Linked DNA regions of Homo sapiens. The protein of the gene in region 1 interacts with the protein of each later gene in a biochemical or structural test. Each region holds a gene or a part of one and is shown on either strand. Other genes may lie near its edges.

Region 1 (3,500 bases):
TCTTTACTGATTATGATTCTATTTCTTGAAAACCCTACAGACTTCACCAAAAGGCTCCTGGAACTGATCAACAACTTCAGTAAAGGTTCAGTATACAAAGTCAATATTCCAAGATTGAATTGGGAAGAAATTGAAACCCTGAACATACTAATTGAGTTATGAAATTGAATCAGTAATTTAAAAAAACCTACCAACCAGTAAAAGCCCCAGACTAGGTGGATTCACAGCTGAATTTTACCTGACATAAAAAGAAGAACCAGTACCAATCGTACTTAAACTATTCCAAAATATCAAGGAAGGACTCCTTCCTAACTCATTCTATGAAGCTAGCACCACCCTGATACCAAAACCTGACAAAGACACAATGAAAAAAGAAAACTTCAAGCCAATATCCCTGATGAACATAGACACAAAAAATTCACAACAAAATACTAGCAAACCAAATCCAGCAGCACATCAAATAGTTAATTCACATTGATCAAATAGGCTTCTTCTTAGGATGCATGGTTGGTTCAACATACACAAATCAATAAATGTTATTCGCCACATAAACAGAATTAAAAACAAAAATGAAATGATCATCTCAATAGACACAGAAAACCTTTGGATAAAATTCAACATCCCTTCATGACAAAAACCTTCAATAAATTAGGCATTAAAGGAACACCCCTCAAAATAATAAGAGCCATCTATCTATGACAAATCTGCAGCCAACATCTTACTGAATGGGCAAAAACTGGGATAATTCCCCTTGAAAACTGCAACAAGACAAGGATGCCCACTCTCACCACTCCTATTCAATGTAGTAGTGGAAGTCCTTGCCAGAGCAATCAGGCAAGATAAAGAAATAAAAGGCATACAAATAGGAAAAGAAGAAGTCACATTCTCTCTCTTTACTGGTGATGTGATTCTATTCCTCAAAAACCCTAAAGACTTCACCAGAAGGCTTCTGGAACTGATAAACAACTTCAGTAAAGTCTCAGTATAAAAAGTCAATGTGGCCGGGCACAGTGGCTCATGCCTGTAATCCCAGCACTTTGGGAGGCTGAGGCAGGCGGATCGACTGAGGTCGGGAGTTCGAGACCAGCCTGACCAACATGGAGAAACTCTGTCTCTACTAAAAACACAAAATTAGCTGGGCATGGTGGCGCATGCCTGTAATCCCAGCTACTCAGGAGGTTGAGGCAGGAGAATCGCTTGAATCCAGGAAGCAGAGGTTGCAGTGAGCAGAGATTGCACCATTGCACTCCAGCCTGGGCAACAAGAGCGAAACTCCATCTCAAAAAAAAAAAAAAAGTCAATGTACAAAAATCAGTAGCATTTCTGTATGCTAACAATATTAAAGTTGAGAGCCAAATCAAGAACATACTCCAATTTATAATAGCTGCAAAAATAAAATAAAATAAAATATCTAGGACTACATCTAACCAGGGAGTTAAAATCTCTACAAGGGGAGCTATAAAACACTACTTAAGGAAATTGCAGCTGACACAAACAAATGGAAAAACATTCCATGCTCATAAATTGGAAGAAATAATATTGATAAAATGGCCATACTGTCCAAAGCAATATGCAGATTCAATGCCATTCCTATCAATCTACCAATGTCATTTTTCACATAACTAGAAAAAACTATTCTAAAAATTCGTGTGGAACCAAAAATGAGCCGGAATAGCCAAAGCCACCCTACGCAAAAAGAACAAAGCTGGAGGTGTCACATTACCTGACTTCAAACTGCACTATAAGGCTACAGTAACCAAAACAACATGGTACTTGTACAAAAACAGACACATAGATGAATGGAACAGAAAAGAGAACCCAGAAATAAAGCCACACACCTACGGTCATCTGATCTTCCACAAAATTGACAAAAATAAGCAATGGGGAAATGACTTCCTATTCAATAAATGGTTTTGGAATAGCTGACTATCCCTATGCAGAAGAATGAAATTGGACCCCTACCTTTCATCATATACAAAAAGTAACTCAATATGGATTAAAGATTTACCTCAACTTGTAAGAATCTTAGAAGAAAACCAGGAAACATTCTGTACATCAGTTTTGGGAAGTAATTTATGATGAAGTTACAAAAGCAATTGCAACAAAAATAAAAATTGACAAGTGGGACTTAATTATACTAAAGAGCTTCTGCACATAGAAACTATCAACAGAGTGAACAGTTAGCCCACAGAATGGGAGGAAGTATTTGCAAACTATGCATCTGACAAAGGTCTAATATCCAGAATCTATAAGGAACTTAAACAATTGAATAAGAAAAAAACAAATAATACCATTAAAAAGTGGGCAAAAGACATGAACAGACACTTCTCAAAAAAAGACATAATAAGTGGCCAACAAACATTAAAAAAAAAAAAAAAAAGCTCAGTATCACCAGTCACCAGAGAAACGCAAATTAAAAGCACAAGGAGACACCTCCCTCACACCAGTCAGGATGGCTATTGTGAAAAAGTCAAAAAGCAACAGATGTTGGTTAGTCTGTGGAGAAAAGGGAACACTTATACAGTGTTAATGGGAATGTAAATTAGTTCAGTCACTCTGGAGATTTCTCAAAGAACTAAAAGCAGAACTATCATTTGACCAAGCAATCCCATTACTGGTTATATATCCAAAGGAAAATAAACTGTTTTACCAAAAAAATTTCATATGCATTCATATATTTATGACAGCTCTCTTCACAATAGCAAAGACATGAAATCAACCTGGGTGCCCATCAACAGTGTACTGAATAAACAAAACATGGTACATATACATCATGGAATACTACATAGCCATGTAAAGAAACAAAGTCATGTCCTTTTTAGCAACATGGATGCAGCTGGAGGCCATTATCCTAAGCAAACTAATGCAAGAACAGAAAACATGAAACTACATGTTCTCACTTATAAGTAGGAGCTAAGCAATAGGTACTCACGGACATAAAGATGGCAACAATAGACACTGGGGACTACTTGGCAGAGGGATGGAGGGGGCAAGTGTAGAAAAACTATGCTCATTATTTAGGTGACAGGACCAATCATACCCCAAACCTCAGCATCATGCGTTATACCCAGGTAACAAGCCTGCACATGTACCCCCTTGTATCCCCCCAAAAAAAAGAGGGAAGGAAGGAAGAGAAGGAGAGAGAGAGTGAGAGAAAGAGAGAGGAAGGATGGAAGGAAGGAAGGAAGGAAGGGAGTAGGGAGGGAAGGAAAGGGACAGAAAAGAGGGAGGGAGGGGAGTCAGAAGTGATACTACTCTCCTGTTACCCCTACCCTAGCCTAGCCTGGAAGGGCTAGAGGAGGACCAGCTAATGTGCAGGCCCTAGTGCACAGTGAAAACAGGGGGGCCCTGTTTAAAAATTATTAAGAATTTCCACACATTGACCCCAGAGCATTAAATCAACAGCAGGGCTCTTCTGAGTGCAAGGTGAGACTGCACAGGTCACAGGTCCATGAAGCTGCCGCAGCTAGAGAGACCTCATTAAAGAAACCATCCTGCTG
Region 2 (3,500 bases), about 110 Mb from region 1:
TGTGCAGCATTTCTATTTATGACAGTTAATCTGGAAGACTTAGCATTTTGAACAAGAACTCAGTTCTGCTGGAAAAACTAAGAGGTATTTTAAGTGGCCTCTTCTTCCAAATGGGGTAATTTTTGTGACCATTACTAAATAAAAACAGATTTCACAGGGGCAACCTATCATACCCCAGGAGGAGCTGAGCAGTCAGGTCGAGAAGTTTGCTATGCCATGTCCCACAGGACACGGCCACGCTTTAGTTTCCATGAGGAATGGCAGCTCGCCTTCCCTGGCTATGTTTCAGGTCGCTGGTCAGTGACTTAATGACTAGCATGAAGGAGCACTTGACACTGGCGAAGTCCTTGTGTTTTTAAACTGTGCTTCTAAGGCAATCACTTCTCCCTGCCGAGGACGGCATGACTGCTCCTGCCCAGGCCGGGTCATCCTGTGCTCACCTTTGAGGGATCAGCCGCTCAGAGCTGAGGTACCCAGACTTGTGCACTTCTTTGTTGTAGTCCCCAAACTTGGCCTGCACAGCGTAGGACCCCAAGAGCACGGCAGTCTCAGGGGGGCAGTAGATCTCATCGCTAAGGATTCCTTCCTTCACTTGGAGGAAGAAAAGTTTCTGGGTGATGTCCTGGATGAGCTCCTCAGCCACATCTTCAGGGTAGAACTTGGCCCGGAACTTGAACTGGAGGGGATTCTCCTTCCTGACCTCCTGGGCAGACACCTGCACGAAACAAGCCACACTCTCCACACAAATCCGGAAGACGAAGGCCCACTGTCCCCAACACAGGCTTCTAACCAAGACTCAATGGGGCCCTCAAGCCAGTTTTCAGGAGATATTTATTCTTAAAGTCATCTTTTTAGCACTCCAGACAAAAAAAGGTTAGTCAAAAGTGCTACCACAGGCCAGACATGGTGGCTCATGCCTATAATCCCAGTGCTTTGGGAGGCCAAGGCAGGAGGATCACTTGAGCCCAGGAGTTTAAGACCAGCCTGGGCAACGTAGAAGAGATCCCATCTCTACAACATTTTTTAAAAAAAAGTTAGCTGGGGATGGTGATGCATGCTTATAGTCCCAGTTACTCAAGAAGCTGAGCAGGAGGAACCCTGGAGCTCAGGAGTTCGAGACTGCAGTGAGCTATGATGGCGCCACTGCACTCCAGCCTGGGTGACAGAGCAAGACCCTGTCTCTTCTTAAAAAACAACAACAAACAAACAAAAACAAAAAAACAGGCCAGGCATGGTGGCTCACGACTGTAATCCCAGCACTTTGGGAGGCTGAGGTGGGCGGACCACGAGGTCAGGAGTTCGAGACTAGCCTGACCAACATGGTGAAACCCCATCTCTACTAAAAATACAAAAAAATTAGCCGGGCATGATGGCATGCAGCTGTAGTCCCAGCTACTTGGGAGGCTGAGGCAGGAGAATCACTTGAACCCAGGAGGTGGAGGTTGCAGTGAGCCAAGATCGTGCCACTGCACCCCAGCCTGGGCGACAGAGCAAGACTCCATCTCAAAACAACAACAACAAAAAACAAACAAGTACTATCACACTCTTGTGCTCAGCTGGAAATCAAAGCTACTGCCTCACTAAGCCCCAGTCCTCATGGGATGATGCTATCAATCCTGGAGAACTCAAATTTGGAAATGACCCCAGTGACCTGGAATGGGGCCACATGCCAATCGGGCCCTGGACCCCGAAACTTACTGTTAAGAATTCCTCCTGCTCCTCCACTCTTCCCCACCTCCCATCATCTTTTTAACTTGTTGCTGTGACTTGGGAGGACAGTGGGGGTTTCAAAAAAAAAAAAAAGGATAATTTTCAGAGTTTGAAGAAAATGTTTATCTTACTACTTTTCTTTTTGGTTGGTTAATGGAATTATCCACTCTTTAAAGTTGGAAGATAATCTGTCACAGGTTCAAACAAAGCAATAACAGGTTCTTACAAGATGGTGGATGATTCACAGTTTATAAGATTAACAATCTCATTGAAAAAACTAAGGTCAACTAAAAGCTATGCAATTAACCATCATATGCTCCAATGAGTGAGCACTATGGAGAAATGCCAGATCTGATTTCCAATCGATATCTCCATTTACTGGAAACCTGCAACCTTTTTGTCTGTAAAAACTTTTACACAAACAAAAAGGAACAGAAAACAAAAGACAGGGTGAGTTGCTCCAGTTTCCTTATCGATGAAGCAGACCAACACCCAATCCACAGCCTGTAAATAGTTAATCCTGACTTGCCTTCTTATCCAGCTTCAGCCAGGTAGGAAATCCTTTATTATCCACATAGTGGAGGCCAAAGTACCACACTTCCCGGAGGCCGATAGTCTTTACCACCTGCGTGAGAGAGAGAGAGGCTCAACACTCATGAGAAACTCACTCAAAAGGGCAACAGCTTTTGGCTGTCGTTCATCACATGGTCTAGCAGAGTCCCCAGGAAACCAGGACATCTGCTCAGTCCAACCACTGGGCAACATCTTTTTTTGCACTCAAATAACTTGTTACTAACTGAGGCTATTATCTCAAAGCCATGAACGACTTATTTTTAATATAAATTTGAGCAGATTCAGGGTTCTACCTTCAAATCTTAGAAAATCTCACTCCTACTCCTTTGTACTCCAGGATGCTCTCCTGCATGAAACTCAGCAGGGCGGGTTATGGCCAGCACACACAGAACCATGGGAGCCCACAGCCCCCCAGGGAACAGTGCGGTGGGTGCATCGCTGCCGGTCAGGTGTGCTCATGCAGAAGACTAAAGCATCCAGTGCCACACCTGAGCCTCCTCTGGCTGCCTGCCTCTGCCTCTCAGCCAGCTGGCCCAGGGGTCTGACTTACTAGGAACAGGGACAAAGAAATCCTAGGAAAGGCAGGAAAACAGGCAAGGCAGACTTCTGGGACGGAAGGGTGTCAATGCACAGGGGTGCCCAGAGGAACCTGCATCTTATAGACCTCCAGAAATGGGACATTCTGATACAGCAAAGGTAGAATCCCGACCCTAGGTCACAGCAAAGATTTCACATTTTCAAGCCTCTGTTGTGCATTACAGGAGTCCTGAGCTGCTTAGTCTCACGACTGTCTTGTAAACAGAAAAGCAGTGATAGTCGAACTTGCTGTGGACATTTGTTGAACATCATCTAAACCGAGTCCCAGACAAGTTCGACTATTTACATATACATAGATGTCTAATTTAAAATCCCATGATATATAATGTTAAACTTTAAAAAATGCTACCATCCTTCAAATACATGGCTTCTATCATATTTAATGCCAAAGAGGGTTGAATACATTAGAAATGACAACTCAGGTATACAGAGCATTTGCTTAAAGTAAATCCTAAAATTCCAAATTAACTCCTGATCTGGGCCTGTTTCTTCATCTGAAGGGTGCAGGGAGGCCAGAGGCTCCCTAAAGCTCTAGAAGTCTGTTTATTAAATGCCCAGGACTGACCTGTTCTTCCCCCTCTTCCCACTCACCCAAAAGGGATGGGGGAAGGCTGCAAGCT
Region 3 (3,500 bases), about 10 Mb from region 1:
GACATTATGTAGGGAAATAGCAGCAGAGAATGGCTAATCTTAAAAAATAACGAACCAACCAACCAAAAAACAAAACAAAACAAGACCAACAAAAAAAAGTGCCATCCCACCCCTCCCCTTGGTTCTTTCATTTGGGGTTATATTAAAGACTCGAGCCTCTGAGAAAATCAGAAAGGCAAAGCCATAGAGGAAAACTGCTTCAAGGCCAGAATTTTGGGTAAGGTAAAGAAAAAGCTGTACATGAAAGCAGGGGACTGTTTGGAAAAGAATCAGAATCTCAAGATCTATTTTTCTTAAATGGGAAAGCTCTGAAACCCAGATCTCCGTTCTACCATCATCCTGATCCTTTAGTTATGGGGCAATAAACTCAAGTGCAATGAGTAAAGTGCCAGCCATGGATACAAAAACAAAAAATAAAACAAAACAACCAACCAAAATAACTCTGGTCTTAGGGTAATAGAAGACATACAGGAAAGGACTGTTTATAGAACACCTGAGGTTCTCAAGAAATTACTATTCAATGGTTCTGTTTTTGCTTACATTAAAAATCAGACTGAAGATTCAAAGATCTTAACTATTAAAGGATGAAAGGAATTTGACAGTGCTTTGAACAGTGATAAAATGGTACCCAAATTTGGTGTTCATATAGCTATTTAAAAAAGACAGTAGCTTAAAAGTTGCAGGAAAAAATGTGAACACAGAGAACAACAGAAACAGTCCAGGAAGATGATGCAGCCCGGACACAGCAAGTTTAATGTCTCTGCTGTACATAGAATTAAGACCCTTTCCCCCTCCTCATCCTTATGCTGGCAATAGGATATGCACTAGAAAATTTGACTCTTAGAGTCAATGAATAAAAGGATGGGCTCATACACCTTCATAGCTCTTTTCAAAAAGGATGCTTATAATTTAAAGGATGTCCTAATGGGAAGGAAAGGTACAGGGCAAGAGGCTGTTTCACATTTTAGTCCATTAGTCTTTGGCAGAGCCCAACCAAGGCCAAATTCACCTAGGATGCCCAATGGCTGTGGGGATCTCCACAGGGTCAAGTAAGCAAACCCAAATGAACATGTTGGATTAAAAAAAAAACAAGATCTAGAAACTCTTGAAGGAAGAGCTTCACCCTGAAAAGGGAAGAGGAAAATGCTTGAAGGGGAAGGGCGGAGGGTCAGTGTGTGATCTCTGCTGTGGTGCTGGGCAGGGGCTTAGGAGTTAAGCCAAGGGTGCCGGAGACACTCGGCGGCAGTGGCTCTCTTCTCAGGGATCAGCTCCAACATGGGCAGTAAGAAATCTGTGAAGCCAGCTGCCTCTTCCTGCGACCACTCATACTTCTCCACTAGAACCTCAAAAAGGCCCCAAGGTTTCAGCTTCGTGATATGTTTCAGGTCACCTGCAGTGAAGACAGTACAGAAAAAGCCACTGATCAACACAGACAAATGACAAGGTACTCTTGTGGAAACCCACAAACTAACCCATGTAGTCTATGAGGAATCAAATTTTGCAATCAGAATCTAATCCTTCATTCACAAAGCATTTCTTTTCTGACATATGCCTCAGAAAGAAGTGCCTCTATTCTTCATACGGCTCCAAAAATTTAAGGTAATTTGTTTTCTCCCCTATTCTAGGATTTTTTTGGTCCCAGTCAAACTGGGTGTGACAATCAAGAAGTAGGTATTTACTACTAAAATAAACATGAAATGCCTATGTCTTCAACATGGTCTTATATGGTGTGCAGAGACACTCTAGTACCACATACCGAGAATAATTTGCTTATACTCTTTTTTTGTGTATGTGCTCAATAGTTTAGTAAATGTTGCTTTACAGTGAGGCAGTAAAGTTAAAACATCATGTCAAGCATGGATAAAAGCAACAAAAAAAACCCCAAATCCTACACAGTTTTCAGATACAACAGCTTCATATACTCTATACCAGGGGTCCCCAACTCTATACCAATACCCCCTATGGTACCAGTCTGCGGTCTGTCAGGTCTGCACAGCAGCAGGTCAGTGGTGGGCCAGCAAGCATTACTGCCTAAGCTCCACCTCCTGTCAGCTCAGTGGCTGCATTAGATTCTCACAGGAGCGTGAATCCTACTGTGAACTGCAGTAGGGATCTAGGTTGCATGTTCCATAAAAGAACCTAATGCCTGACAATCTGAGGTGACACAGTTTTATCTCCAAACCACCCCCCAACCCCCCCATCCATTGAAAAACTGTCTTCCACAAAACCAGTCCCTGGTGCCAAAAAGATTGGGGACCGCTGCTCTACACTATACTGGAGTATCAACCTAATTGCTTCTTTGAAGTGACAACTTTTTAAAAGATAGTCAATTATTAATAGCTAAGGCAAATGCTGCTTTAAAATTTTAAGTTGGCCAGGCACAGTGGCTCATGCCTGTAATTCCAGCACTTTGGGAGGCTGAGTCGGGTGGATCACTTGAGCTCAGGAGTTCAAGACCAGCCTGGGCAACATAGTGAAACCCTGCCTCTACCAAAAATACAAAAAAATTAGCTGTGTATGGTGGCACATGCCTGTGGTCCTAGCTACTTGGGAGGTTGAGGCAGGAGGATCATTTGAACCTGGGAGGTGGAGGTTGCAGTGAGCCAAGATCGTGCCACTGTACTCCAGCCTGGGTGACAGAGTGATACCCTGTCTCAATAATAATAATAATAATAATAATAATAATAATTTTTTTTAAACATAAAAATTTTAAGTCTCTTTTGTGAGCAGTGAGTGCCTATTTGATTACCTACCTGGTAAACACACATGCCTTAATCTGACTGCACATGAGGAGGAACTCTTATGAAACATTTTACAATTTTCCCACCTAAAAAGAGGTTTAAGAAAGGGTAATGTTTCTGAGGATGGCTCCTGCCAAGGATTGAGAAAAGTCATTTTTCTCAGCACTTCTGTAGAAGTTGTGAGGAAAAAGGGAACCATGGCACAATGGGGGTAGAAAAACCAGACCATTTCCTAGATGCTTCTAGGTCAGGTTTTCACATTTCAGGTTTTTTTTGCAATGCTTAAGAAATATATTATCAAGTCAAAAATTGGAAGTTTTGTTTTTGTGGTTTTTTTTGTAATAACAAATACATAAAACTAAAAAGTGTGAAGTTCGTTTGTATGACTAATGTACTTCGAGTGACTGTGTTAGGTGTCACTGGGATGCAAAGATGAGTGAGATGTAGTCCCTGCCCTTATGTAAGAAGCTTAAATTACCTGCCCTTTGGTAGAGGCAGTTCTTAGACCAAACGCCAGCAAAAAATTTGCCCATTTTTCAGAAGTGCTATAGAAGTAATCAACCAACTGCATGCAGGCACTATACATATTAACTGTTAGTAAGAAGTATACTTTATTATTATCTCCATTAAGAAATCAGCAAACTGAGGCACAGTTAGATCCTGTCAAAGGTCACATGGCTAGTGGAGTAGCCAGGATTTGACAGTCTGGCTCCAGTCTCTGCTCTTTTTTTTCCCCGAGACAGGATCTTGCTCTGTTGC

The links.
Region 2: the proteins of CLIC5 (region 1) and EZR form a complex in vitro, tested with the Homo sapiens proteins (one study listed by BioGRID).
Region 3: of the proteins of CLIC5 (region 1) and SRPK1, one has a biochemical effect on the other in vitro, tested with the Homo sapiens proteins (one large-scale study listed by BioGRID and IntAct).

The regions. Positions count from the first base shown.
Region 1 is NC_000006.12:45,904,361-45,907,860, reverse strand, and holds part of CLIC5 (chloride intracellular channel protein 5), read left to right. Parts: intron 1-3,500. UniProt on the Homo sapiens protein: In the soluble state, catalyzes glutaredoxin-like thiol disulfide exchange reactions with reduced glutathione as electron donor. Can insert into membranes and form non-selective ion channels almost equally permeable to Na(+), K(+) and Cl(-).
Region 2 is NC_000006.12:158,784,869-158,788,368, forward strand, and holds part of EZR (ezrin), read right to left. Parts: intron 2,336-3,500; coding exon 2,240-2,335; intron 716-2,239; coding exon 441-715; intron 1-440. UniProt on the Homo sapiens protein: Probably involved in connections of major cytoskeletal structures to the plasma membrane. In epithelial cells, required for the formation of microvilli and membrane ruffles on the apical pole. Along with PLEKHG6, required for normal macropinocytosis.
Region 3 is NC_000006.12:35,834,099-35,837,598, forward strand, and holds part of SRPK1 (SRSF protein kinase 1), read right to left. Parts: intron 1,391-3,500; coding exon 1,206-1,390; 3' UTR 1-1,205. UniProt on the Homo sapiens protein: Serine/arginine-rich protein-specific kinase which specifically phosphorylates its substrates at serine residues located in regions rich in arginine/serine dipeptides, known as RS domains and is involved in the phosphorylation of SR splicing factors and the regulation of splicing.